7 linked regions of the Homo sapiens genome follow. The protein of the gene in region 1 purifies or fractionates together with the protein of each later gene. This does not show direct contact. Each region holds a gene or a part of one and is shown in the gene's direction. Other genes may lie near its edges. The genes, in order: CDK19, MCM3, MED20, ERC1, MED23, CCNC and MED1.

What was found.
Region 2: the proteins of CDK19 (region 1) and MCM3 purify together in Homo sapiens (affinity purification with mass spectrometry; one large-scale study listed by BioGRID and IntAct). This does not show direct contact.
Region 3: the proteins of CDK19 (region 1) and MED20 purify together in Homo sapiens (affinity purification with mass spectrometry; 7 studies listed by BioGRID and IntAct, with this or other methods). This does not show direct contact.
Region 4: the proteins of CDK19 (region 1) and ERC1 purify together in Homo sapiens (affinity purification with mass spectrometry; 2 studies listed by BioGRID and IntAct, with this or other methods). This does not show direct contact.
Region 5: the proteins of CDK19 (region 1) and MED23 purify together in Homo sapiens (affinity purification with mass spectrometry; 7 studies listed by BioGRID and IntAct, with this or other methods). This does not show direct contact.
Region 6: the proteins of CDK19 (region 1) and CCNC purify together in Homo sapiens (affinity purification with mass spectrometry; 10 studies listed by BioGRID and IntAct, with this or other methods). This does not show direct contact.
Region 7: the proteins of CDK19 (region 1) and MED1 purify together in Homo sapiens (affinity purification with mass spectrometry; 9 studies listed by BioGRID and IntAct, with this or other methods). This does not show direct contact.

Annotation. Positions count from the first base shown.
Region 1 is NC_000006.12:110,612,974-110,616,469, reverse strand, and holds part of CDK19 (cyclin-dependent kinase 19), read left to right. Parts: intron 1-1,803; coding exon 1,804-1,935; 3' UTR 1,936-3,496.
Region 2 is NC_000006.12:52,274,743-52,278,242, reverse strand, and holds part of MCM3 (DNA replication licensing factor MCM3), read left to right. Parts: intron 1-554; coding exon 555-708; intron 709-1,044; coding exon 1,045-1,176; intron 1,177-1,766; coding exon 1,767-1,975; intron 1,976-3,500. UniProt on the Homo sapiens protein: Acts as a component of the MCM2-7 complex (MCM complex) which is the replicative helicase essential for 'once per cell cycle' DNA replication initiation and elongation in eukaryotic cells.
Region 3 is NC_000006.12:41,918,340-41,922,452, reverse strand, and holds the start of MED20 (mediator of RNA polymerase II transcription subunit 20), read left to right. Parts: upstream 1-1,313; 5' UTR 1,314-1,434; coding exon 1,435-1,448; intron 1,449-1,509; exon of another isoform or gene 1,510-1,653; intron 1,654-4,113. Other genes in the region: BYSL (bystin), read right to left, coding at 623-890. UniProt on the Homo sapiens protein: Component of the Mediator complex, a coactivator involved in the regulated transcription of nearly all RNA polymerase II-dependent genes.
Region 4 is NC_000012.12:997,723-1,001,222, forward strand, and holds part of ERC1 (ELKS/Rab6-interacting/CAST family member 1), read left to right. Parts: intron 1-3,500. UniProt on the Homo sapiens protein: Regulatory subunit of the IKK complex. Probably recruits IkappaBalpha/NFKBIA to the complex. May be involved in the organization of the cytomatrix at the nerve terminals active zone (CAZ) which regulates neurotransmitter release.
Region 5 is NC_000006.12:131,597,243-131,600,742, reverse strand, and holds part of MED23 (mediator of RNA polymerase II transcription subunit 23), read left to right. Parts: intron 1-580; coding exon 581-705; intron 706-1,232; coding exon of another isoform or gene 1,233-1,238; exon of another isoform or gene 1,239-1,276; intron 1,277-1,981; coding exon 1,982-2,187; intron 2,188-2,275; coding exon 2,276-2,456; intron 2,457-3,500. UniProt on the Homo sapiens protein: Required for transcriptional activation subsequent to the assembly of the pre-initiation complex. Component of the Mediator complex, a coactivator involved in the regulated transcription of nearly all RNA polymerase II-dependent genes.
Region 6 is NC_000006.12:99,551,661-99,555,160, reverse strand, and holds part of CCNC (cyclin-C), read left to right. Parts: intron 1-1,359; exon of another isoform or gene 1,360-3,265; coding exon 3,266-3,321; exon of another isoform or gene 3,322-3,500. UniProt on the Homo sapiens protein: Component of the Mediator complex, a coactivator involved in regulated gene transcription of nearly all RNA polymerase II-dependent genes.
Region 7 is NC_000017.11:39,413,264-39,416,763, reverse strand, and holds part of MED1 (mediator of RNA polymerase II transcription subunit 1), read left to right. Parts: intron 1-1,424; coding exon 1,425-1,520; intron 1,521-1,632; coding exon 1,633-1,738; intron 1,739-3,500. UniProt on the Homo sapiens protein: Component of the Mediator complex, a coactivator involved in the regulated transcription of nearly all RNA polymerase II-dependent genes.

The DNA of each region.
Region 1 (3,496 bases):
TCTTGAACTCCTGACCTCAGGTGATCTGCCCAGCTCAGCCTCCCAAAGTGCTGGGATTACAGGTGTGAGCCACTGTGCCTAGCCACAACTGAGTTGTTTTTAACCAAAACTACCTTAGTGCCCTGTTATCTTGGACCAGATATTCCAAGTCGTTTGGCAGCCTTTGAGCACTGAGCAGGAGGACCTTGCTGATCTGTTCTTTCCTAAACCCCCAGTGCCACCTCAAGATAATTTACATGTTTAACTCAAAGTGTAACCGCCCGACAGGTTCTTCTTGCTCGCTGCCCAGATAGAGCCAATTTATCAAGACAGGAATTTCAATAGAGAAAGTTTAATACACATAGGGCCAGCTAAATGGGACATCAGAGTTTTATTATCAGCCTCCTCAAAATTTGGAGGCTAGGATTTTTCAAAGATACTTTGGTGGGCAGGGGTCTAGGGAATGACTACTGCTGCTTGGTTGGGGATGCAATCAAAGGGGTGTGAAAAATGGTCTTCCTGTGCTGAGTCCACTTCTGGGTGGGGGCCACAGGACTGGTTGAGTCATGAGTCTCAGTCTGGGTGGAGTCATCCGAAATGCAAAAGTCTGAAAAGCCTTCTGAAAAGGTTGACAATAGTGATGTTATTTACAGGAGTAATTGGGGAGTAGCCAATTGACCTCCAGAACAATGACTGGTAATTGTTTAACTGCACCTACATCTTAGCAGAATTCAGGCCTCTCTCATAATCCTAAACTTGTGGCCTTTTAGTAGTTTTATAAAGGCAGTTTAGTTTTGGGATGGACTATTGTCGTTTAAACTATAAACTAAATTTCTCCCAAAGTTAGCTTGGCCCATGCCCAGCAATGACCAAGAACAGTTTGGAGGTTAAAGGCAAGATGGAGTGGGTTAAATCAGATCTCTTTCACTGTCATAATTTTCTTGCTGTTTAATTTTTGCTAAGGAAGTTTCAAAAGTAATAGCTTTATTACATATATTCTTTCCCACTTTGCTTACAAGAAAAACCAGCCTTCTGAATATAGCCAAAGATACTACTTCCAGCTATGCTTGTCTCTTACATACTGTTCTTATTCTATAGATGATTTTTCCTTTTACACATTTTTTTTGTATTTGCGTTAGGTACTATGAAGATGAAGGTTTCATTTAATGTAATAAAAATACATTGAATTGAAATGCATTTTTCTGTCTTCTCTTGAAGACAATCATATGTGAAAATTGCTTTATTCTAAATGTTACCTGAAGTTTATAAAACCCACATGTTGCTGCCGCACCCCACCTAATCTTGCCTTACTTTGTCTCGTAGGTAGAACTCCTGATACCCCTAGCTTCTACCTCTGAAAACCCTTTGCTCTAAAATAATGATTTCTTAATCACAGCTTTGTTATTTATAATGGGAAAAATAATAGCATGTCAGTATACATTATGAATACTATTGATTTCAGTATGCCAAATTGATTATTCTTGTTTGCACGTCTCAGTTATGCAAAGGATTGTTACACCCCAGAATTGGAATAAAGAGAAATGGGTCCGCTGAAATTTCCCCTTTTCCTTTCTTTCCAGTGTAGCTTATCTCCCACAAAAATCTAGCCAAATTTCATGCCTGCCAGAATGTGTGGTTACAGTGGTGGCAGGCTGTGATTTCAAATAAGCAAAATGTGTTAACAACTTAAGTTAGCTGTCAGCTATGTGTGTCTGAACCAGGAACCTAATGAAAACGGCTTATATCTCTATCCTACTGTGATGAGCATCTTGAGTCATCCTCTTCCTCCATCAGTAATTCCCTTTTCCTGTTTCCTTCTCCTAGCACTCCAGTTCTCGCCTGAATTACCAAAGCAGCGTTCAGGGATCCTCTCAGTCCCAGAGCACACTTGGCTACTCTTCCTCGTCTCAGCAGAGCTCACAGTACCACCCATCTCACCAGGCCCACCGGTACTGACCAGCTCCCGTTGGGCCAGGCCAGCCCAGCCCAGAGCACAGGCTCCAGCAATATGTCTGCATTGAAAAGAACCAAAAAAATGCAAACTATGATGCCATTTAAAACTCATACACATGGGAGGAAAACCTTATATACTGAGCATTGTGCAGGACTGATAGCTCTTCTTTATTGACTTAAAGAAGATTCTTGTGAAGTTTCCCCAGCACCCCTTCCCTGCATGTGTTCCATTGTGACTTCTCTGATAAAGCGTCTGATCTAATCCCAGCACTTCTGTAACCTTCAGCATTTCTTTGAAGGATTTCCTGGTGCACCTTTCTCATGCTGTAGCAATCACTATGGTTTATCTTTTCAAAGCTCTTTTAATAGGATTTTAATGTTTTAGAAACAGGATTCCAGTGGTGTATAGTTTTATACTTCATGAACTGATTTAGCAACACAGGTAAAAATGCACCTTTTAAAGCACTACGTTTTCACAGACAATAACTGTTCTGCTCATGGAAGTCTTAAACAGAAACTGTTACTGTCCCAAAGTACTTTACTATTACGTTCGTATTTATCTAGTTTCAGGGAAGGTCTAATAAAAAGACAAGCGGTGGGACAGAGGGAACCTACAACCAAAAACTGCCTAGATCTTTGCAGTTATGTGCTTTATGCCACGAAGAACTGAAGTATGTGGTAATTTTTATAGAATCATTCATATGGAACTGAGTTCCCAGCATCATCTTATTCTGAATAGCATTCAGTAATTAAGAATTACAATTTTAACCTTCATGTAGCTAAGTCTACCTTAAAAAGGGTTTCAAGAGCTTTGTACAGTCTCGATGGCCCACACCAAAACGCTGAAGAGAGTAACAACTGCACTAGGATTTCTGTAAGGAGTAATTTTGATCAAAAGACGTGTTACTTCCCTTTGAAGGAAAAGTTTTTAGTGTGTATTGTACATAAAGTCGGCTTCTCTAAAGAACCATTGGTTTCTTCACATCTGGGTCTGCGTGAGTAACTTTCTTGCATAATCAAGGTTACTCAAGTAGAAGCCTGAAAATTAATCTGCTTTTAAAATAAAGAGCAGTGTTCTCCATTCGTATTTGTATTAGATATAGAGTGACTATTTTTAAAGCATGTTAAAAATTTAGGTTTTATTCATGTTTAAAGTATGTATTATGTATGCATAATTTTGCTGTTGTTACTGAAACTTAATTCTATCAAGAATCTTTTTCATTGCACTGAATGATTTCTTTTGCCCCTAGGAGAAAACTTAATAATTGTGCCTAAAAACTATGGGCGGATAGTATAAGACTATACTAGACAAAGTGAATATTTGCATTTCCATTATCTATGAATTAGTGGCTGAGTTCTTTCTTAGCTGCTTTAAGGAGCCCCTCACTCCCCAGAGTCAAAAGGAAATGTAAAAACTTAGAGCTCCCATTGTAATGTAAGGGGCAAGAAATTTGTGTTCTTCTGAATGCTACTAGCAGCACCAGCCTTGTTTTAAATGTTTTCTTGAGCTAGAAGAAATAGCTGATTATTGTATATGCAAATTACATGCATTTTTAAAAACTAT
Region 2 (3,500 bases), about 58 Mb from region 1:
AAAGATTAAACCTCTAAACAAGTTTTGGAATCCAGGCTGCTCTGTGCCTACTCTGATAATGGCCTGATAGTGTAATTTGTCTTAGAAAATAATTTTTTGCAGTTAGGAACAATGTACCTGTTTGTGTGTTTCTTCAAGTATTTTCTTTTTTTTTTTTTTTTTTTTTTTTTTTGGTGAGACGGAATCTTGCTCTGTGACCGAGGCTGGAGTGCAATGGTGCGATCTCTGCTCACTGCAACCTCCGCCTCTTGGGTTTAAGTGATTCTCCTGCCTCAGCCTCCCAAGTAGCTGGGATTACAGGCGCACACCACCACGCCTGGCTAATTTTTTGTATTTTTAGTAGAGATGGGGTTTCACCATGTTGGCCAGGCTGGTCTCGAACTCCTGACCTCGTGATCTGCCTGCCTCGGCCTCCCAAAGTGCTAGGATTACAGACCTGAGCCACTGCGCCTGGCCCTCTTCAAGTATTTTCTATAGGCCAAAGTATATAAAGTGGAGCTCCACAAAGTCCCATTGAATCTCACTAGGCTTGCCATTGGTTATTTCTCCTGTAGGATATCTTTGACCAGCTGGCCAAGTCATTGGCCCCAAGTATCCATGGGCATGACTATGTCAAGAAAGCAATCCTCTGCTTGCTCTTGGGAGGGGTGGAACGAGACCTAGAAAATGGCAGCCACATCCGTGGGGACATCAATATTCTTCTAATAGGTACGATGTTGGGGATTTGCTTTAGACTGTTGTTCTGATGGAGTGGTTGTGGAGACCTATAATATGTAAGATTGTATATTCTGTACTTAGCAGTATTTCAGTCCTATCAAAGGACAAAAGGCTAAAATGAATCTTTTTTTTTTTTGTCATCTCTGGAATTCCTGATTTATAGTATATAAATATTCTTCCGTGAGTGGTGAAGGGAAAAGCGAAGGAAAAATATTAAAATCCACTTACTGTGTGACTCTGTTGTGTCAAGAGCTGTGCTAGAAAGGCAGAATTTGCTGGGGGTGCTGGGGAGTTTCCTAGAGAGTCATCACTGCCCCCACCCTACAGGAGACCCATCCGTTGCCAAGTCTCAGCTTCTGCGGTATGTGCTTTGCACTGCACCCCGAGCTATCCCCACCACTGGCCGGGGCTCCTCTGGAGTGGGTCTGACGGCTGCTGTCACCACAGACCAGGAAACAGGTAAGGGTGTAAGGGTCCTTGGCAAAGGCCCAGCAGAGAGCCTGAGCATAGATCCTTTGTGTGCCCTGGCTTGTGTTCTGAAGATACAGCTGATAGGTTAGTTGGGTCCAGATTATAGAGGACTGAGTATTCAGCAATGGTGGGTGAATTATTTAAGTCTTTGGTGTTCATCTATTTACAGGAATGTTTTCGATTTAAAGGATTAAGTCTTAGCACATTAGAAAGGAAATAAAAATGAAGATTGTACTATTTTATGAACTAGAGGAAGGGATTTGGAGACCAGTGAAGAGAAGGCAGAGGTCTAGTTGGGGTATTACTTGAGGTTGAGGCCGAAGAGAGAATCTATGAAGGAAATTTGTGAGAAGCTAGTTACTTAGGGGTCAAAGTGGGACAAAGAGATACTATTAATATTTAGATTAGAGCTGAAAAGGTGACCCACCAGGGTTTCCTCTAAGTTTCTCGGAGCCAACACACCATTGCCGCATTCTCACGTGCAAAGTGAGAGATTCCTAGGAAGGAGATTGAAATCCTTCCCTTCTGGCCCCTATAACCTAGACTGTAGCACGTATTTTTACCTTCTCACTTCCCAGGAGAGCGCCGTCTGGAAGCAGGGGCCATGGTCCTGGCTGACCGAGGCGTGGTTTGCATTGATGAATTTGACAAAATGTCTGACATGGATCGCACAGCCATCCATGAAGTGATGGAGCAGGGTCGAGTGACCATTGCCAAGGCTGGCATCCATGCTCGGCTGAATGCCCGCTGCAGTGTTTTGGCAGCTGCCAACCCTGTCTACGGCAGGGTAAGTGGAATCAGGCCCCAACCATTGTCCTCACCTTCATTTGGTTTTGCTGACTAACTGGGCTGAGAAGTGTATTCTAGGTGACCCAGGGGAATAATAGGCCAAAGACTAAAAGTAAGGCCATTTTCTTGTTATTGTCCTTTGTTTAGAGCAGTGTTCCTCACCCATTCCTGCACAGCAGAATCCCCTGGAAAGTTCCTTATTTAAAAGTAACTTTTTAACAGTACAGTTAAACAGTCCATTTAACATATTTAACCGTCCATTAAATAAAAGGACTACATGCATGTGGCGGGAGAATTTCTAAACAGAACAGGTATATAGTATGAAAACGAAAAGACTTGCTTCTCTCTCCTGTCACTTTGCCAAGAAATAACAGCTTTGAAGTGTTGCAGGAAACAAAACTTTAAGCATGTACCAGCAAATACACTATTTCCTTGTTAAGAATTATCTCTGTTTTTACCATGACTGTGATGTGCTAGATATAATCTTTTATATTTGTCTGTGCGTGGGGTTTGTTGAGTTTTTCCTTTTAAAAAAATAGATTTCTAGTATTCCGTCACAGGGATGTATTTAACTAGTCTCCATCTGATGGGTATTTAGTGGTTTCCATTTTTTCCTCCCTATTTTGAATGAAGCTGTAGTGGCCATCCCTTTATGTGTGTGGATAGATTTGGGAATATATCTGTAGTATAAATACCTAGCAAGGAAATTACTGGATTAAGAGTTATGTGCATTTTTCTTTTGGTAGAGATTGCAAAATTACCCTCTTTAAAGATTGTACCATATTAATACTTCTATTAATGAATGCTCATAAATGCTTTGTATTTACCAACTCCTTTTATCCTATCAGTAACTACCTCACAATGTGTAGTTATCTTTATTTTACAGATGAGAAAATGGAGGTACAAAAGATTATGTAACTTGCTCAAGAGCCACAAACTTGAAAATCGCAGAGCCAGGATTTGAGCCCAGAGCTCATGCTGTGTCCTGGCAGTTTATAATCAATCCCACAGTGTATGGGAACACCTTGTTGCGATGCGATGGTGTTTTTTATACATACAGTTGCATGGTCCCCCGTTCAGAGTTTCTGAATTAAAATCTCTTGAGTTGGAGCTCTTGGTAGCTATGGTTTAGAAGGGCTCCACAGGTTTGGTTTTAATGTGTAGCCAAGGTTGAAAACCATAGCTTTTAAAATTAATGATAGGGCTGGGCGCAGTGTCTCATGCCTGTAATCCTAGCACTTTGGGAGGCTGAGGTGGGAGGATCACTTGAGCCTAGGAGTTTGAGACCAACCTAGGCAATATAGTGAGACCTCATCTTTAAAAGTAAAATAAAATAAAATAAATGATAATGTATGTTTATGTCATTCTCAAGAGTGATTGGGAAATACAAGAAAAATGGCAGGACCTGAAACGTGAACATGGTCAAAATCATTATTACCTAAAGGTTGTTATGTTCTCTGACTGTGAAGTGTATGTGGATGGGTAAGTATCAGTCCAGTAGGCCCAGAATTGAAAGGAGAGTA
Region 3 (4,113 bases), about 69 Mb from region 1:
AGAGGTCAACACTCCCTCCCTAGTGAGAAAACATCAGACGTCTTTCAATTCATCTCTCTCGCTCTTTGGCTGCTAAACAATGTGTTTTCTGCTCATAACACTTCCCATTCGTTTTTCAGTTCTCAGCTTAAAGGTCCTGCTGCAATCGGAGAAGCTTCTCAAGACCAATGCTATTGTTACCAGGGAAACGATACTTTATCATGGAAATATATTATTCTAAGAGTCTACTTAATTGCCTCTCTGCTGGGCTTGACTGTAAGGTCCTTAAGTTAGACGTGCCTGTGTTGTTTACTTCTGTACCCAAACATTCGATAGAATTCCGAGCATAGCGCAAAGCTCGTAGTGGGTATCCCATAAATATTTACAAAACCAATGGATACATGCTAGGAGCACTTAGTGGCGCGATCGATTACTGTTGGCCTAACTTCGGGGGTGTCTAGAAGGGAGTGCCTAAAACTAGGAGTGGACGCGGAGGGCTCTAGACAGGGTTCAGTCTCCTTTGCAAGTGTAATACGGACCCCTTTGTTGACTCGAAGCAATTCCCCTGCCAGACACTTTTTAGCTGCCCACCCCGCCCCACTACTGGCCACTGTCTTCCTCGGACCTCATCCCAGACACTCACCCAGCCGCGTGGTGCGTTCCCGCGGCGCCGCGGGCTTGTCCCCAGTCCCATGCTCGGCCTCGAGTTCCTCCTGTTGCTGCCGTGCTTGCTGCAAAATCCGTCGGCTCAGCCGGGGCCCCACATACTCTTCCTCCGCTTCTCCTGTCCCGCGACCCCGCCGCTTCTCCCGGACCCCCGCCCGCACCGCATTCCCAGCCAGGATCTGATCGGCCAGGGGCGCATGTTTTTCCTGACCCCCCACCCCACGGGCCGCCTTGAATTTGGGCATTTTTCTCGAAAAAGTTGCCGGGAAGGATCGCACGTGGGGACTGAAGAAAGGCCAGGATGCGCTTGCGCGGTGGACTCCCAGCGCCCAAGAGGCCGCCCGGCGATCACAGCGCCCCCTAGCATTCGGAGGCCAGAAGCGCCATCAGCGCCGCCCCTCCCACTAAAAGAGCTCCCGGGTTCCGGAGCTGGACTCCCGAATATATTCACTGCCTTTAACGTTAGCTTCTCTCAATAGTGCAGTCTTTGAGTGTCGCTCTCCTAGCTTCATGGATGTAGGCCTAGAGTGCTCAGCCAAACGGGAATGTCTGGATTTAGAAACCTCGGGGCGGGAATCCGCAGATGATGTCAGTGGAGGCGTCACCGAGGGGTGCCGAGACACGCCCCATTCCTTGGGGAAGGCGTGGACCCGGCGCTCTGTTTTTACGTATTTCCGGAGTCCCTTCTGAGACAGAAGGTTGTGTTGGGGAACTGAAGGAGTTTCTGTGGGCGGACAGGGAACCCTGCGTTTCTACTGTGTGATTCTGCCACCTTCCTGGCCCGACGCCATGGGAGTGACTTGGTAGGACTGCAGGGGGTTTTGTGGGGCGGGGCTTGGAGTTGTGAAAGGCCGGAAAGAGGACCTTGACCATGGTCCGCCGTCCTCTGGGAGCTGAGGGAGATGTCCTCGGGTTGTGTAGATGAGAGGATGCCGTCCGGGCTGCGGGTTCCCCGGGCTTGTTTCCTCAGAGATGCGCCCCTTCCTCTTGGAAGGCGGGAAAGCAAAGGTTTTTTTTTTGTTTTGTTTTGTTTTTTTTAAGACGGGGTCTCGCTCTGTCGCCAGACTGGAGTGCAGTGGAGCGATCTTGGCTCACTGCAACACTCCGCCTCTTGGGTTCAAGCGATTCTCCTGTAGTCCCGAGTAGCTGGGACTACAGGCGCCCGCCACCACGCCCGGTTACTTTTTGTATTTTTAGTAGAAATGGGGTTTCACCATATTGGCCACGCTGGTGTCGACAAAGCAAACTTTTTATCCCAGGAACCTATCAATGGTTGTATACCTCATTCTCTTCTGGATACATCTTCCTTCCCGTGAGGCCATAGTACTGCCTGCAGTGGGACCTCAGGGTTGGAAATAGGGTCTTTGGACTATGACCCACCTGCAGACAGGGTTGGAGGGAGTGGGCCATAAGCAATCAGGAGATAGTATTTTTTAAGATTTTCGCCTGCTCTTCCCTCAGCCATCAAATACAGTTAGACCCGCTTGTGTCTGTTTCTAATTTGCTCATTTTAAGATCTTGGGTCTAGAGGAAAAAAGGGTATTGATAATAAGGAGATCATGGTTCCAGGCACTTTATCTCTTTAGGACCCGTTTCCCACTATGTTTAATTCCATGGTTGGTCTAGTTTCAATGGAGTTTTTATCTTTCATATGTTTTAAGTCTCAGTTGAAAGAAGATGAGGTGGCAGGGAAAGGTATGGGTCCAGTGCTCGTGGAGGCGTTAGTTGTAAGGTGCCAGGTCCCAGAACATTTTTTTCTTATCTCAGTAGATGTGAGCATTTTTCCCGTGGGAGAAATCCGGAGGCCAGGATATTTGAAGCCAGTGGATATAGGCTTCTCATACAAAAGCATGTGTAGGGGAAATACTTTTCCTCCTGGTAGCCCAGGTTCTTGCAGGTTTCTCAGTGATTGCACTCTTGCTTCCTACGATTGACACGATCCTCCTGTGTTCCTTAATGGAAGCAAGATATGTGAGGAATGGAAATGGAAAGGATGCAGCGTAGAACCCTGGAACCCTTGCTCTTTCTTTTTTTTAAAGAAATAGAAATGGGGTCTTGCTGTTTTGTACATGCAGGTCTTGAATTCCTGAACTCAAGCGAGCCTCCTGCTTTGGTCTCCCAAAGTATTGGCATTATAGACATGAGCCACCGTGCCCAGCCACCCCTGCTCTTTAAATGGAGAAGGCAGCTCCAGGGAAAGGGCTCTCTGTTGGCCCCCTTATCAACGTTTTCAGAATCCTAGGACTTCTGTCACTTGTAGCGTCAGTTTAGGGATTCTTTTGTATTTCAAAATAAGGCACATTAGCAACATCGTTTATCAGTGTTTTTTTCTGATAGAGTAGTGACAATTTTTAGCAACAGAAGGACTCTACCTTAATAGATTCATTTAGTTGATCATAAAGCAATGTCATCTATGACTGTTTTCTTGATTTCTATATAGCTAAGTACTGCTTGTACTATTGTTTATTAATTTTTTAATCGATTTTCCTTAATGTTTTAACAGGCACTACATCCTTATACAGGCAGTCTAGTTAGTGGTTAAGAGCATGGACATCAAGCCAGGTTGCTGGGCTTTGAGTCTTGAGTGTACCACCCATTAACTGTGTGACCTAGTGCAAGTTATTTAACCTCTTTGTGCTGTACTTAAGTTTCCTCTTTTTTTTTTTTTTTTTTTTTTTTGAGGCAGAGTCTCACTCTGTTGCCCAGGCTGGAGTGCAGTGGCGTGATCTCGGCTCACTGCAAGCTCCGCCTCCCGGGTTCATGCCATTCTCCTGCCTCAGCCTCCCGAGTAGCTGGGACTACAGGCGCCCACCACCATGCCTGGCTAATTTTTTTGTATTTTTTTTTTTTTTTTGAGACGGAGTCTCGCTCTGTCGCCCAGGCCGGACTGCGGACTGCAGTGGCGCAATCTCGGCTCACTGCAAGCTCCGCTTCCCGGGTTCACGCCATTCTCCTGCCTCAGCCTCCCGAGTAGCTGGGACTACAGGCGCCCGCCACCGCGCCCGGCTAATTTTTTGTATTTTTAGTAGAGACGGGGTTTCACCTTGTTAGCCAGGATGGTCTCGATCTCCTGACCTCATGATCCACCCGCCTCGGCCTCCCAAAGTGCTGGGATTACAGGCGTGAGCCACCGCGCCCGGCCATTTTTTTGTATTTTTGGTAGAGACGGGGTTTCACCGTGTTAGCCAGGATGGTCTTGATCTCCTGACCTCGTGATCTGCCCGCCTTGGCCTCCCAAAGTGCTGGGATTACAGGCGTGAGCCACCGTGCCTGGCCAAGTTTCGTCTTTTTTTTTTTCTTTTTGAGATGGAGTTTCGCTCTTGTTGTCCAGGCTGGAGGGCAGTGGTGCGATCTTGGCTCACTGCAACCTCCGCCTCCTGGTTTCAAGTGATTCTCCTGCCTCAGCCTCCCATGTAGCTGGGATTACAGGCGCACACCACCATGCCTGGCTAAGTTTTGTATTTTTGG
Region 4 (3,500 bases), on another chromosome or scaffold:
GGGAATAGTGGTCTGGAACTGGCACTGGCAGGAAGGAAGGTACCAGCCTCATTTCCCAGTATTGGGTGTGGAGTGGAAGAGACTGAGTAGCTTTCACTTAAAAGGACTATATGAGAAGAGGTGTCCTGATTGGAAAGTCAGCTTTCAGTTAAGGCAGAGAGGTAGCAAGAACATTTCCCAAGGAAGTTGAAGACTTTTAGAGGAGTTTCTTGATAAAAGAATGAAGTTCCATGAGAGTGTATTTTTCCACCCTATTGGCTTGTTATCATCATTTAAACTTTAAAATGTCTCTTCATCTTAATAAAAAACTCCAGATTTATACTTTATTGCTCTAAGTTGCTCTCTGCTTTACACACTTAAGAGTTTTCTGCATTTGCTGTGTATCTCCATTTCTTCACCTGTGACTTCTCAACCTATTTCTGTCTTGTTTCTATCGCCATTATTTCAGTGAAACTGAAAATAGCTAGTGAAAATATGTATGAAAATAGCCAATGTCTATTTTACTATCCTGTTCTTATTTAACCTCTTAGCAGCTGTGCTAGTTTCTATTGGCTATATAACAAATTACCCCCTAACTTAAGAAACATTTATTGTTTCACAGATTTTGTAGATCAGGAATGTGGGTGCAGTTGGCACCTATGATTCAGGGTCTCTCACAAGGCTGCAGTCATCTCAAAGCGCTACTTGGGGAGGCTGTTTCCAAGCTCACTCATGCGGCAATTGGCAGGCCTGAGGTCCTTGTTGGCTGCTTGCTGGAGAGGTGAGTCCCTTGCCATTTGGGTTTCTGCGTACGACTACTTAAAATATGATATCTCAGTGCTTCTGTCTTCAAAAGAGGACAGATATTAGCCAGAATCTTTTTGTAACCTTATCTTGGAAGTGATGTGGTATCACTTTTGTTGTATTCTGTTATCAGCCAGTCACTAGGTCCAGTGCACTCAAGGCAGGATTTCACAATTGCATGAATGCTGGGAGGCAGAGATCACTCATAGCCATTTCAGGACTGTCTACCACAGCAGCATTTGACAGAGCGGATACCCCTCCTTCCTTTGTAAAGCTCTCTCTTCTCTTGAGGTCTTCAGAGCACTTTTCTGTTTTTCTTGCTGGTTCTCTGGGCTCTTTCTCTGTCACTTTTTTTTTTTTTTTTTTTTTTTTGAGGCAGAGTCTTGCTCTATCGCCCAGGCTGGGGTGCAGTGGCACAATCTTGGCTCACTGCAACCTCCGCCTCCTGGGTTCAAGTGATTCTCCTGCCTTAGCCTCTTGAGTAGCTGGGATTACAGGTGTGCACCACCACACCCAGCTAATTTTTGTATTTTTAGTAGAGATGGGGTTTCACCATGTTGGCCAGGCTGGTCTCGAACTCCTGGCCTCAGGTGATCTGTCTGCCTTGGCCTCCCAAAGTGTTGGGATTATAGGCGTGAGCCACCGTGCCTGGCCTCTCAGTCACCTTTTGAGTCTTTCTGTGCTCATTTATTAAATGTTTGAATTTCTTTGGGCTTTCTCATCGCTTTCTATTTCATTTTTCATCTGTGTGCTGAGTATTCATTTTTATGTCTTCAGTTTTTACCTCTCTCCTGAGTCTGAGGACCACTCTATCGAATTGCTACTGAATGTTTCCATTTGGATGCCCCTTAAACCGAACACATCCAGAACGGAATGTATGATTCCTACACTTCCTCTGGTGTTTCTTAATTTGTTAAATGACACCACTGGGTGCTTAAGCCGGAAATGTGTGTGGTGTTCTTGATTTCTCCCTCTCCTCCACCTTCCATTTTACTATTGCTTTTTATTTTTCTAGAGCCATGGCTGTTCAGTGATGGTGTGAATGTTTCTATGAGGTAGTGCATCCTCTGCCAGGTTGCAAGCATTGAACCTGGTGCTAGGTGATTTTTTTTTTTTTTTTTTTTTGAGATGGAGTTTCACTCTGTCGCCAGGCTGGAGTGCAATGGTGCAACCTCCGCCTCCCGGGTTCAAACGATTCCCCTGCCTCAGCCTCCCGAGTAGATGGGATTATAGGCGTGCACCACCACGGCCAGCTAATTTTGTATTTTTAGTAGAGACGGGATTTCTCCATGTTGGTCAGGCTGGTCTCAAACTCCTGACCTCAGGTGATCCGCCTGTCTTGGCCTCCCAGAGTGCTGGGATTACAGGCGTGAGCCACTGTGCCCAGCCCGCTAGGTGATTTTTAAGATTCCTTCCAATCTTGAGATACTGCGTGTGTAGCTATTGAAGATTTCTGAGTAGGAGATGCATGATCAGGGCTGTGCTTCAGAAAGGTGGCAACTCTTGAACAGTCATTTTTAGTTGTTCACCAAAGAATGAAACTAAACACCTGTATTCTTTTTAACTTTATTATGGTGTGCTAAGTGATGAATAGATAATTTTTATGTGACAGCCCTTTTGTATATATTAGTTTCATTTTTTCTCATTGTTAATGCATTTATGTTTGGAAGCCCTTTTGCATGGAAATAAGATAATCAGGCCAGGCACAGTGGCTCACGCCTGTAATCCTAGCACTTTGGCAGACTGAGGTGGGTGGATCACTTGAGGCCAGGAGTTCAAGACCAGCCTGAGCAACGTGGCGAAACCCCATCTCTACTAAAAAATAAAAAAATTAGCTGGGTGTGGTGGTGCACGCCTGTAATCACAGCCACTCTGGAGGCTGAGGCATGAGAATTCCTTGAACCCTGGAGGCGGAGGTTGCAGTGAACTGGGATTACACCACTGCACTCCAGTCTGGATGACAGAGCGAGACCCTGTCTCAGAAAAAAAAAAAAAAATAACCCAATGGGATGAAAATTTTGGGATGAAAATTTGTGTGAACTTAAATTAAGTGTCTCTGCCATCCTGGCCAACATGGTGAAACCCCGTCTCTACTAAAAATACAAAAATTAGCTGGGTGTGGTGGTGTGTGCCTGTAGTCCTAGCTATTTGGGAAGCTGAGGTGAGAGAATCGCTTGAACCTGGGACGCACAGGTTGCAGTGAGCCAAAATCACGCCATTGCACCCAGCCTGGTGACAGAGCAAGATTCTGTCTTAAAACAAAAAAAATTAAGTGTCTGAAATTGTAAAAACTTCTCAAGAAATAAAATTCAGACCTTAAACATAATTTTACTGTAGGAATATAACTTACCTTTTGAAGGAATTCTTTCTTGAAGCCATTATTTGTGTATTTATTTATTTTTAATTAACTTTTTTGTTTGTTTGTTTTTTTGAGATGGAGTTTTGCCCAGACTGGAGTGCAGTGATGCGATCTCGTCTCACGGCACCTCCCAGGTTCAAGCGATTCTCCTGCCTCAGCCTCCCAAGTAGCTGAGATTACAGGTATGGGCAACCACGCCTGGCTAATTTTTGTTTTTAGTAGAGATGGAGTTTCACCATGTTGGCTAGGCTGGTCTCAAACTCCTGACCTCAGGTGATCTGCTCACCTCGGCCTCCCAAAGTGCTGGGATTACAGGCGTGAGCCACACTGCCGGTGCTTGCCACCTTGCCTGGCTAAT
Region 5 (3,500 bases), about 21 Mb from region 1:
TTTTTATTATTATTTGACCTCATTGAATCTTTGAAGGGCTATTGGGGAATCCCCAAGAGGTCTACAGACCACACTTGAGAACTGATGTTTTAAAGAGATAGTTATTGGTTTTAGCAACCTCAAATACGTTTATGTAAATTATTTTGTTTTACATAAAGAACCCTCTTCAATTCTGAGATTTATACATGCATTATGTAATTATTTCACTCACCAAAAAAGATATCTTTCTTTATTCTGTTCCCTTGGCCGAATAAAGTACTACTAAATCAGTGTCAAAGTAAATGAACAGTAGTGATGGGCTTGTATTACTGTTATCGCTGGTACTCTGTAACCTCAAAAAAAGAGATTTCAAATGTCTTTTGTCATCTTTTCATAAACTGTTCTCATATTTTCTAATGTGATCATCCAGATCATTCATAAACTAAGCAAATTTAGGTTCTAAGCTGAATATAACTAGTTAAGCAGTGAATGCACTGCAGTGAAATTCTCAGTGTACATAATTATTATTTTCGCTATAATCTTTTATGAATTGTGGATATAATCATTTATATCTGGATTACATCTATTTGTTTATGTTTAGATTTTTTTACAGGCTCTGATTCAATTCAGGGAACTTGGTGTAAAGACATACTTCAGACCATCATGAGTTTCACTCCTCATAATTGGGCTTCACACACCCTGAGCTGTTTTCCAGGCCCACTACAGGTAATTTGGTCTTGAATTACTTATTGAATGCACATGAAATCCTTCTTCCCATTCACAATGGTGTTCTAGAGTGAGTCTTGGTGACTTCTGAATAAAATTAGCTTTTATTTATTTTAAAAAATATTTAGGGGCTGGGCATGGTGGCACAAGCCTCTAGTCTTAACTGCTTGAGAGGCTGAGGCAAGGGGGATGGCTTGAGCCCAGGAATTCAGGTTCACAAGGAACTATGGTCACACCACTGTACCACAGCCTGGGTGACAGAGCCAGACCCTGTCTGTAGAAAAAAAAAAAAAAGTCATTACTTACAAAATCTCTCAAGTTGTTCTGTGTCCTACTCTGGTACTGGACATGTTTCTAAAAATTTAATTATTATGGTTTCATCTTAGTTAACAGTTTTAAGGGGAGGAAGAGTAGAAAGAGGAAAAAAATAAAAGTGAAAAAAATTGAAAAAGAGAAAAAAATAGTTAATGGTTTTAGAATCTCATGAAAATTAACATAGTACCTGAAAACTTTTTTCTCTCTCATAGAACTGAAATGGGGAGAAGTATAACGTAATGGAGCTTCACAGAGTGTGCGTAATATGACACTTCACTGAATTTTTTTCTTAATCACAGAAAAACTGTAAACCTGGCTTTTCTAATAAGGAGAAAGGCAAACCTCATCTGTCTTCTCCTTTTCAGAAAAAATGTTAGGCATGATGAACATCCATTTTTCATAACTCCTGGTAGGGCTAGAGCATTTGGTTTTTAAACTTACCAAATCACCTGGAGGGCTTGCTAAGCTGCAGTTGGCTGGGCCCCCAGCCACAGAGCTTCTGATTCAGTAAATCTGGGATAAGGTCTGAGAATTTTGCATTTCTTGTAAGACCCAGATGATGCTGATACCGCTGGTGTTGGGACCACACTCTGAGAATCACTGGGCTAGTGCAATGGATTTTCCTCAAAGACACTAACATATGTAGCCAAAGGGTAGAGACACTTCATTCTTTTTTTTCTTTTTAAGATTGGCGGAAGTATCAACAGATGATTGAAGAAGCTTTGAATTCAGGCTTACTTAGAATTTCCATTTAGGAAATCTAGGAAAAGGAATCTTGGAGATAATCTAGTCAAGCTTATGTATTTTCCAGACACAGAAATTCAGGCCTTAATTGCTGAGTTGCTCAAGGTGACCTAGAGTTTATTAGTGTCAGAATCAAGTCTAGAACTGGTTTATTAACTCCATATCCAGTGCTCTTTCTACTATAACCAATGAAATAAACTTCTAATCCTCTTTTTAGGCATTCTTCAAACAAAATAATGTGCCTCAGGAAAGCCGTTTTAATCTGAAAAAAAATGTGGAGGAGGAGTATAGGAAGTGGAAGTCAATGAGCAACGAAAACGACATTATTACCCACTTCTCTATGCAGGGCTCCCCTCCTCTCTTTCTTTGTCTTCTCTGGAAAATGCTCTTGGAAACAGATCATATTAATCAGATTGGCTATAGGTAAGTCAAAAACCTAATTTGCATTCCATTTGGCAAATTGTTGTATCCATACAACAATGGAGTTTATGTTTTACTCTCTGCCTTCCAGAGTATTAGAGAGAATTGGAGCCAGGGCCTTGGTAGCCCATGTGAGGACATTTGCAGATTTCCTGGTATATGAGTTTTCTACATCAGCAGGGGGTCAGCAACTCAATAAATGCATTGAAATTCTTAATGACATGGTATGGAAGTATAACATTGTTACACTGGACAGATTAATTCTCTGCCTGGTAAGAATAAATACATTTCTAAGCTTATTCTCTTAGATCAAGATGTATGACTAATATATGTTATGCCAATCTGCTCTATATTGCTTTGAAGGATTTAATGAATTTATACTATATCAAGCATTGCTGTCACTTCCCTAAAGAGCCGGAAATTTTCCAATTTCTGTTTTTGTTTGTTTTTGTTTTTTTGTTTGTTTTTTGAGACAGGGTCTCGCTCTGTCGCCCAGTGCAGTGGCGTGATCATGGCTCACTGCAGCCTCAACCTCCTGGTCTCAAGCAATCTCCTCCTGCCTCAGCCTCCTGAGTAGCTGGGAGTACAGGCATATGCTACCATACCCAGCTAGTTTTTTTTCTTTTTAACTTTTTTATAGAGATGGGGTTTCTCCATGTTGCCCAGGCTGGTCTCGAACTCCTGGGCTGAAGCAATCCTCCCTCTTCAGCTTCCCAAAGTGCTGGGATTACAGGCGTGAGCTACTGCTTCCAGCCCCAATTTCCTTATTCATTCATTTAATAAGTACATATTGAATATCAACTGTGTTCTATGTATAGAAGGTACAGAAGTAAATAAAATAGATGTGGTCCTAGCCTTGTGATACTTTGAAAATATGAGCAATTAGACCCTGAGTTGATTCTCCAAAACTCCCACTAGAGGGAGGAAGTAGCAGTAAGTCACTGTGTTTCTTTACAGAGTGCGAATATAACCATTTCTGTACACTTTGGTAACAAACATTCCCCAAATGTTTTTTTCTTCTCCTGACTTTGATGTCTATTTCCAGCAGAATTTTTTTTTTCTTTTTTTTTTTTTTTTTTTTTTGATATGGAGTCTTTCTCTGTCGCCCAGGCTGGAGTGCAGTGGCGTGATGTTGGCTCACTGCAAGCTCTGCCTTCCGGGTTCACGCCATTATCCTGCCTCAGCCTCCCAAGTAGCTGGGACTACAGGTGCCCACCACCACACCCGGCTAATTTTTTGTATTTTTAGTAGAGATGGGGTTTCACCGTGTTAGCCAGGATGGGCTCAATCTCCTGACCTCGTGTTCTGCCCGCCTC
Region 6 (3,500 bases), about 11 Mb from region 1:
AAGCACTGTACTCTAGTTGATAAAGTTATTACCCATGGGTGTACAAGTTAACAATTCTGATAATGCTATACATGTATATGGGAATTAAACAATTACGTAAATCAATAGCAAATGTTTGAGAGCCGGGTTTCTCATTGTTGGAGCGGGAATTTACAGATAAGCAAAGGGCTGGAAACAGCATGAACTCGTGTACCTTAATACAATATAGATGGTTAGTTACATATAGAAATATTTATAGATAAGTGTATATACATGGGTTAGTGTGTGTATTTCTTGGCTTTCTCAGCTGAAAGGGTCTATAAGCAATGACATCCCAGTAGCAATGAGCTCACCTAGTACCCATATCTTGGTTTCTAATATCATTCTCCAATAAAAGGTACCAGGGCTCCTTGGAGAAATGGTTGATTCTAGGACTGGGGCAAGAAATACACAAGATGGACCTGGACCATCTCTTAATGCCAGTAATAAAGAAGTATTCAAAACAAACAAGAAAAACAAAAACGTCTATTGATGAGGATATGTCAAAAGGATATAGGAGCTAACTAAGAGAGCTCCCACTGACCAAAGCTGAAAGAATTTGAGCATCAAAATTTTAAAAATAGCATTGGATAATAACTCAAAGTATAAACTAAATATCCATGAGTCCATACTGATATAAATAAATGAGGGAGAAGAGACATGTCTTCCATGCTGAAGAATTCCAAATAATATATGTAACTATTCTGCCCTCAAGTAGAGGGAGCATAACTCCCCACTCCTAAGGTGCTGGCTATACATGTTAACTTCCTGCTAGTGTGTACATATGGAAAGGGAGGAAAAAGGTAACTTTACAGTGGGGAAACCTGAGAAATACTGCCTTAGCCAGGCGATCAAGGTCAGTAGCAACAGTGATAAATCACATTAATATCATGTATCATTGATGTGATATGATGAAGATGGTACTTTATCTCGGTGGTCTTCCTGTCAAAAACCCATTTTCTCTAGTCTAATGAGAAAAACATCAGACAAATTCCAGTAGAGGGGCATTTGACAAAATACTTGACTGGTACTCCTAAAAACTGTCAAAGTCATCAAAAACAAGGAAAGGCTAGAAAACTGTCACAGCCAAACAGTCTAAGGAAACATGACAAATAAATATAATGTGGTATCCTAGATAAGACCCTAGGATAGAAAAAGGACATTGGTACAAACTAAGGAGATCTGAAAAAAGTACAGTTTAGTTAATAATAACATTTCAATATTGGGTCAGTAATTGTAACAAATGCGCCATACTAATGTAAGATGTTAATAGTAGGGGAAGCTGGGTGAAGGCATGTCTTAGTCCACTTGGGCTAATATAAGAAAGTACCATAGACTGGGTGGCTTTCACAACAGACATTTATTTCTCACAGTTCTGGAGGCTGGGAAGTCAATAACGGTGGGTATAAGAGAACTGTGCATGATCTCAGTGTTTGAGTCTACAAAAATAAAAGGCAGAGGAATATAATTAGGTAGAGTTTGTTTTGCTTTTTTCAAGGGAAATTTGAGCATATTAGTATGTGATGGAAGATTTACTGAAGGAGGAAGGTTAAAGATGAAAAAAATAGCAGGAGTTATCAATTGAATAGATGATAATAAGTGTATAAGTGGTAAGACAAACAATAGAGAGGAGGGATGTATTTTTCTCCAAGTTGGAGGAAAAGGATTAAAAGACAGAAAAAAATGCAGAGCAGTTTTAGCATGGAGTAACAGACATGTGACAGTATCAGGTAAATATATTCTCAATAGAGGTGTTAGGTGTCAAGGTCCAGGGGATGGGGATGTAGATTTGTTTTATATACAGAGATAATTTTACTTTGTTGATTGTCTACCATTATATAAGAACCTGTTGTGCTGGTATACTTTACATCACAAGGATTTGTAAAACTCAGAAACCTTAATAGGTACGTCTTAAATTTAAATAAAGGAGAGAAGAAAGGAAAGATTATAAATTTACTAATGTCAAGTTTAAATTATTCTAGGTTTCAAATCCTGGCAGATATTACACATCTAAATTAGCTGTAGGGCACTGAATTTGCAAAACAAATCTTTTTGAAAACATAGTGCATAGAAGAAATGGAATTTCTTTCTTTTTTTTTTTTTGAGATGGAGTCTCACTGTCACCCAGACTGGAGTGCAGTGGTGTGTTCTCAGCTCACTGCACCCTCTGCCTCCCGGGTTCAAGGGATTCTCCTGCCTCGGCCTCCCGAGTAGCCGGGACTACAGGTGCATGCCACTACACTCGCCTAATTTTTGTATTTTTAGTAGAGATGGGGTTTCACCATGTTGTCCAGGAGGTCTCGAACTCCTGACCTCAGGTGATCCACCCACCTTGGCCTCCCAAAGTGCTGGGATTACAGGCATGAGCCACTGTGCCTGGCCAGAAATGGAATTTCTTTTAATTTCAGTGAAATCACTTGGGCTTTGTACAAATGGAAGCTGACACTAAACATTTTTTAGGACCTGTCAGTAGTTACTTGGTTGAATTAAATGTGTCATAATGGCTTGAATACAGTTTCTCAAATAGTACTTATGTGTATATGCTCACACCATTTTAAGGAGATGGGGGATTGATGGTTAACATTTTTTTTTCATTTGTACTTTATTTAGTGACTAACCAATAAAGTAATAGATAATAGAGTACTAACTTTATGTGTTACTACTACTACTTTATGAGTAACTCGAGACCTTTGCATATATATTAATGCTTTTATTAAAATATATATTTTGATAAATACCTGGTCATTGTAAAAAGTTTAGAAAGTGCAGATTAGTAAAAAGTTCTTAAATCTCACAAATAACCACTGTTAACATTTTTTTGGTGTACTATCCTCCCAATATTTTATATGTATATTTTTTACCAATTGTATATATTGTAAACACATATGTAACCCCTGTGTTCCTTCTAAGCTCAGTCACTGGAAAACAGAAGAATACCATTCTGTAGCTGAAAAGATTTTAGAAATGATAAAAGCCAGTGATTTTTTTTTCCTGATCTTTTTCTTTTTTAAACATCAGAATCCTTTCTTAAGGTAGTAAATATAAAATTGAAGCTGTGTAGAGTGTCCTGCCCCCCAGTCTTTCCCCTTCCCTGAAAGTAAATAAAAATCTGCGTCCGTAAGTGTTGCCAAGAATTCCTACTGAAAATAATTTTGCTCTACCCTCTAATATTCTGCTCTGTTAAAGGAATTTTGAGTTAATTTATTTCCCATTTTCTCAGTTTAAATTTTTTTTTTATTTTCTGCAGTAAAAACTAGATTTTCATATGCCTTTCCAAAGGAATTTCCTTATAGGATGAATCATGTAAGTATATGATATAAAATGGAACAATTATCAAAGCTATATATAAACTAGCTCTATTTTATATTAGACTAAATTTAATAGTTTCCTAGAAATGGCAGTTTCAAATATTACATAAATACAGACATTATTCTAAATTAAAGCTAAATAGCTTTTACCATTTAAAAAAAATACTTCATAGT
Region 7 (3,500 bases), on another chromosome or scaffold:
TCCTCCCACCTCAGTGTCCCAAAGTGTTGGGATTACAGGCATGAGCCACTGTGCTGGGCCAGGAGATTCTTCTCATGGAAATAAAAATTGCTTTAGAAATGAGAAATTTTTAGTAGTTGGAGTAATAACATAGAGCATATATGTTCAAAGTTGTGGCACTTCTGTTTCATGTGTTAAAATGCCTTAAGAAGTCTCCAGATAGCTTTAGGGCATTTAAAAATGAGTTTTCATAAGGCAGTTATGGAGCTAATCCTATAGAGAGGCATGCTTTTTACAAAGAAAGTATATGATCCTTGTGTCTAGGCTGCTAGCACATCTGGCATAAGAACATATGATGATGGCTAGATATATGTGGAATAAATACATTATTTTAGATTATAGCCTCTATATCTCTGCTTGCCAAACTATGGGCTGCACATCTAACAGCTGCAAACACTTGATAGAAAGCAGAGTTTATGGCAGTGGTTCTGGATATCTGCTTATCAAGTAGAATGAGACACTCGGCCACTTTTATTTTCAGAATTCACTTTTACATTTTAGGGATTAAGTTTCTTCATCTTGGAAAATTGAAAGTCTAGCTACTTTTGTTCTGGAGAAATTTATAACAAACTGGCAGGTTCCTTGGAATCTGATTCCTTCTGTCATCTGTGGATGACATATAGTAGGTTTTGTATGTGAAAAAAGTGTGCGATTTAGTTTCCAAGGAGGGAGAGAGAATTTCAGTCTGTACATTTAAGGAATGTTATTTGTGTGAAGTCTTTTTTTTTTTTTTTTGAGACAGAGTGTTGCTCTGTTTCCCAGGCTGGGGTTCAGTGACATGATCTCGGCTCACTGCAACCCTTGCCTCCCAGGTTGAAACGATTCTCCTGTCTCAGCCCTCTGAGTAGCTAGGATTACAGGTGTGCGCCACCACACCCGGCTAATTTTTTTTTTTTTTTTTTTTTTTTTTGAGATGGAGTCTTACTCTTGCCCAGGCTGGAGTGCAGTGGCACGATCTCAGCTCACTACAACCTCCGCCTCCTAGGTTCAAGTGATTCTCCTGCCTCAGCCTCCCGAGTAGCTGGGATTACAGGCATGTGCCACCACGCCCGACTAATTTTGTATTTTGTATTTTTAGTAGAGATGGGGTTTGTCCATGTTGGTCAGGCTTGTCTCGAACTCCTGACCTCAGGTGATGAGCCCACCTCAGCCTCTCAAAGTTCTGGGATTACAGGCCTGAGCCACTGCATCCGGCCTCTTTTTTTTATTTTTTAGTGGAGTTGGGGTTTCGCCATGTTGGCCAGGCTGGTCTTGAACTCCTGACCTCAGGTAATCCACCTGCCTTGGCCTCCCAAACTGCTGGGATTACAGGCGTGAGCCACCGTGCCCAGCCTGTGTGAAGTCTTATATTTGGTTGTTTTATGATCTTTCTCTTTGCCTTTTAGATTCTCCTGGGCTTCTCCAATTTGAAGTGTGTCCTCTCTCAGAGTCTCGTTTCAGCGTATCTTTTCAGCACCCTGTGAATGACTCCCTGGTGTGTGGTGAGTTGTGTGGGTGGCTAACACCTCTCATGGAGCGGTTTGGTCCCTATGTCTTTTTTGGAAAAGTCAGAAGCTAAATCTAAAACAATTTCCTATGTATTTTGTCTTTCAGTGGTAATGGATGTGCAGGACTCAACACATGTGAGCTGTAAACTCTACAAAGGGCTGTCGGATGCACTGATCTGCACAGATGACTTCATTGCCAAAGTTGTTCAAAGGTAGCCTTGGCCCTTTTTCATCTGAGTCCCATTTAGAGATGTATAAAGAATGTTGTTGAGTAGGGCGCGGTGGCTCACGCCTGTAATCCCCACACTTTGGGAGGCCGAGGCAGGCGGATCACGAGGTCAGAAGATTGAGACCATTCTGGCTAACATGGTGAACCCCCATCTCTACTAAAAATACAAAAATTAGTCAGGCGCGATGGCGGGCACATGTAGTACCAGCTACTCGGGAGGCTGATGCAGAAGAATAACTTGAACCTGGGAGGTGGAGGTTGCAGTGAGCCAAGATTGCGCCATTGCACTCCAGCCTGACGACAGAGCAAGACTCCGTGTTTTTGTTTTTGTTGTAAAAAAAAAAAAAAAAAAAAAAAAAAAAAAAAAAAAAAAAGGCCGGGCCTGGTGGCTCACGCCTGTAATCCCAGCACTTTGGGAGGTGAAGGCGGGTGGATCACGAGGTCAGGAGATTGAGACCATCCTGGCTAACACAGTGAAACCCCGTCTCTATTAAAAATACAAAAAATTAGCCCGGCATGGTGGCGGGCGCCTGTAGTCCCAGCTACTAGGGAGGCTGAGGCAGGAGAATGGCATGATCCCGGGAGGTGGAGCTTGCAGTGAGCCGAGATCATGCCACTGTACTCCAGCCTGGGCAACAGAGTGAGACTCTGTCTCAAAAAAAAAAAAAAATGTTGTTTTCAGAATTAGCATGAATTTCAAATAAAGGAGCAATTTAGTTATTGCTTTGATTTCACCCTTCTCTGCTTTCGGATTCAAAGTAATCTAAGCTTTGTTTTTTTTTTTTGAGATGGAGTCTTGCTCTGATGCCCAGATTGTACAGTGGTACAATCTTGGCTCACTGCAACCTCTGCCTCCCGGGTTCAAGTGATTCTCCTGCCTCACCCTCCTGAGTAGCTAGGATTACAGGCATGTGCTACCACACCTGACTCATTTTTGTATTTTTAGTAGAGACGGGGTTTCACCATGTTGGCCAGGCTGGTCTCGAACTCCTGACCTCAGGTGATCTGCCTGCCTTGGCCTCCCAAAGTTCTGGGATTACAGGCGTGAGCCACTGCACACAGCCAGCTTTGTTTTTTTTTTTTTTTTTTTTTTTTTAATGATATTACTATGAGAGTAATGGGAAGTAAAGTAGGTAACTTCAGGCCTGGAATTATGGTACTTTAAGGCAGGAGAAAGCCATAATAAAATACAGATATTTTTCTTACCTATCCTGTGTGCCAATTCTTCATAGATGTGACATTTTTATCTTTTTATTCTTTTATTTTTTTATTTTGAGACAAGAGTCTCACTCTGTTACCCAGGCTGGAGTGCAGTGGTGTGATGACGGCTCACTGAAGTGTTGACCTCCGAGGTTCAGGTTATCCTTCCACCTAGACCTCCTGAGTAGCTGGTACTGCAGGTGTGAGCCACTGTGTCTGCCTGAGCAGATTTCACAACTTAAATGTTAGGCTGGGCGTGGCAGTGCATGCCTGTAATCCAGCACTTTGGGAGGCCAAGGCGGGCAGATTACTTGAGGTCAGGAGTTCGAGACCAGCCTGGCCAACATGTTGAGATGTCATCTCTATAAAAATACGAAAATTAACCGAGCATGGTGGTATCCGTCTGTCATTCTAGCTACTTGAGAGGCTGAGGCAGGAGAATCACTTGAACCTGGGAATCGGAGGTTGCGGTGAGCCAAGATTGCGCCACTGTTCTTTAGCCTGGGTGATAGAGTGAGATTCTGTCTCAAAACAAACAAACTAAC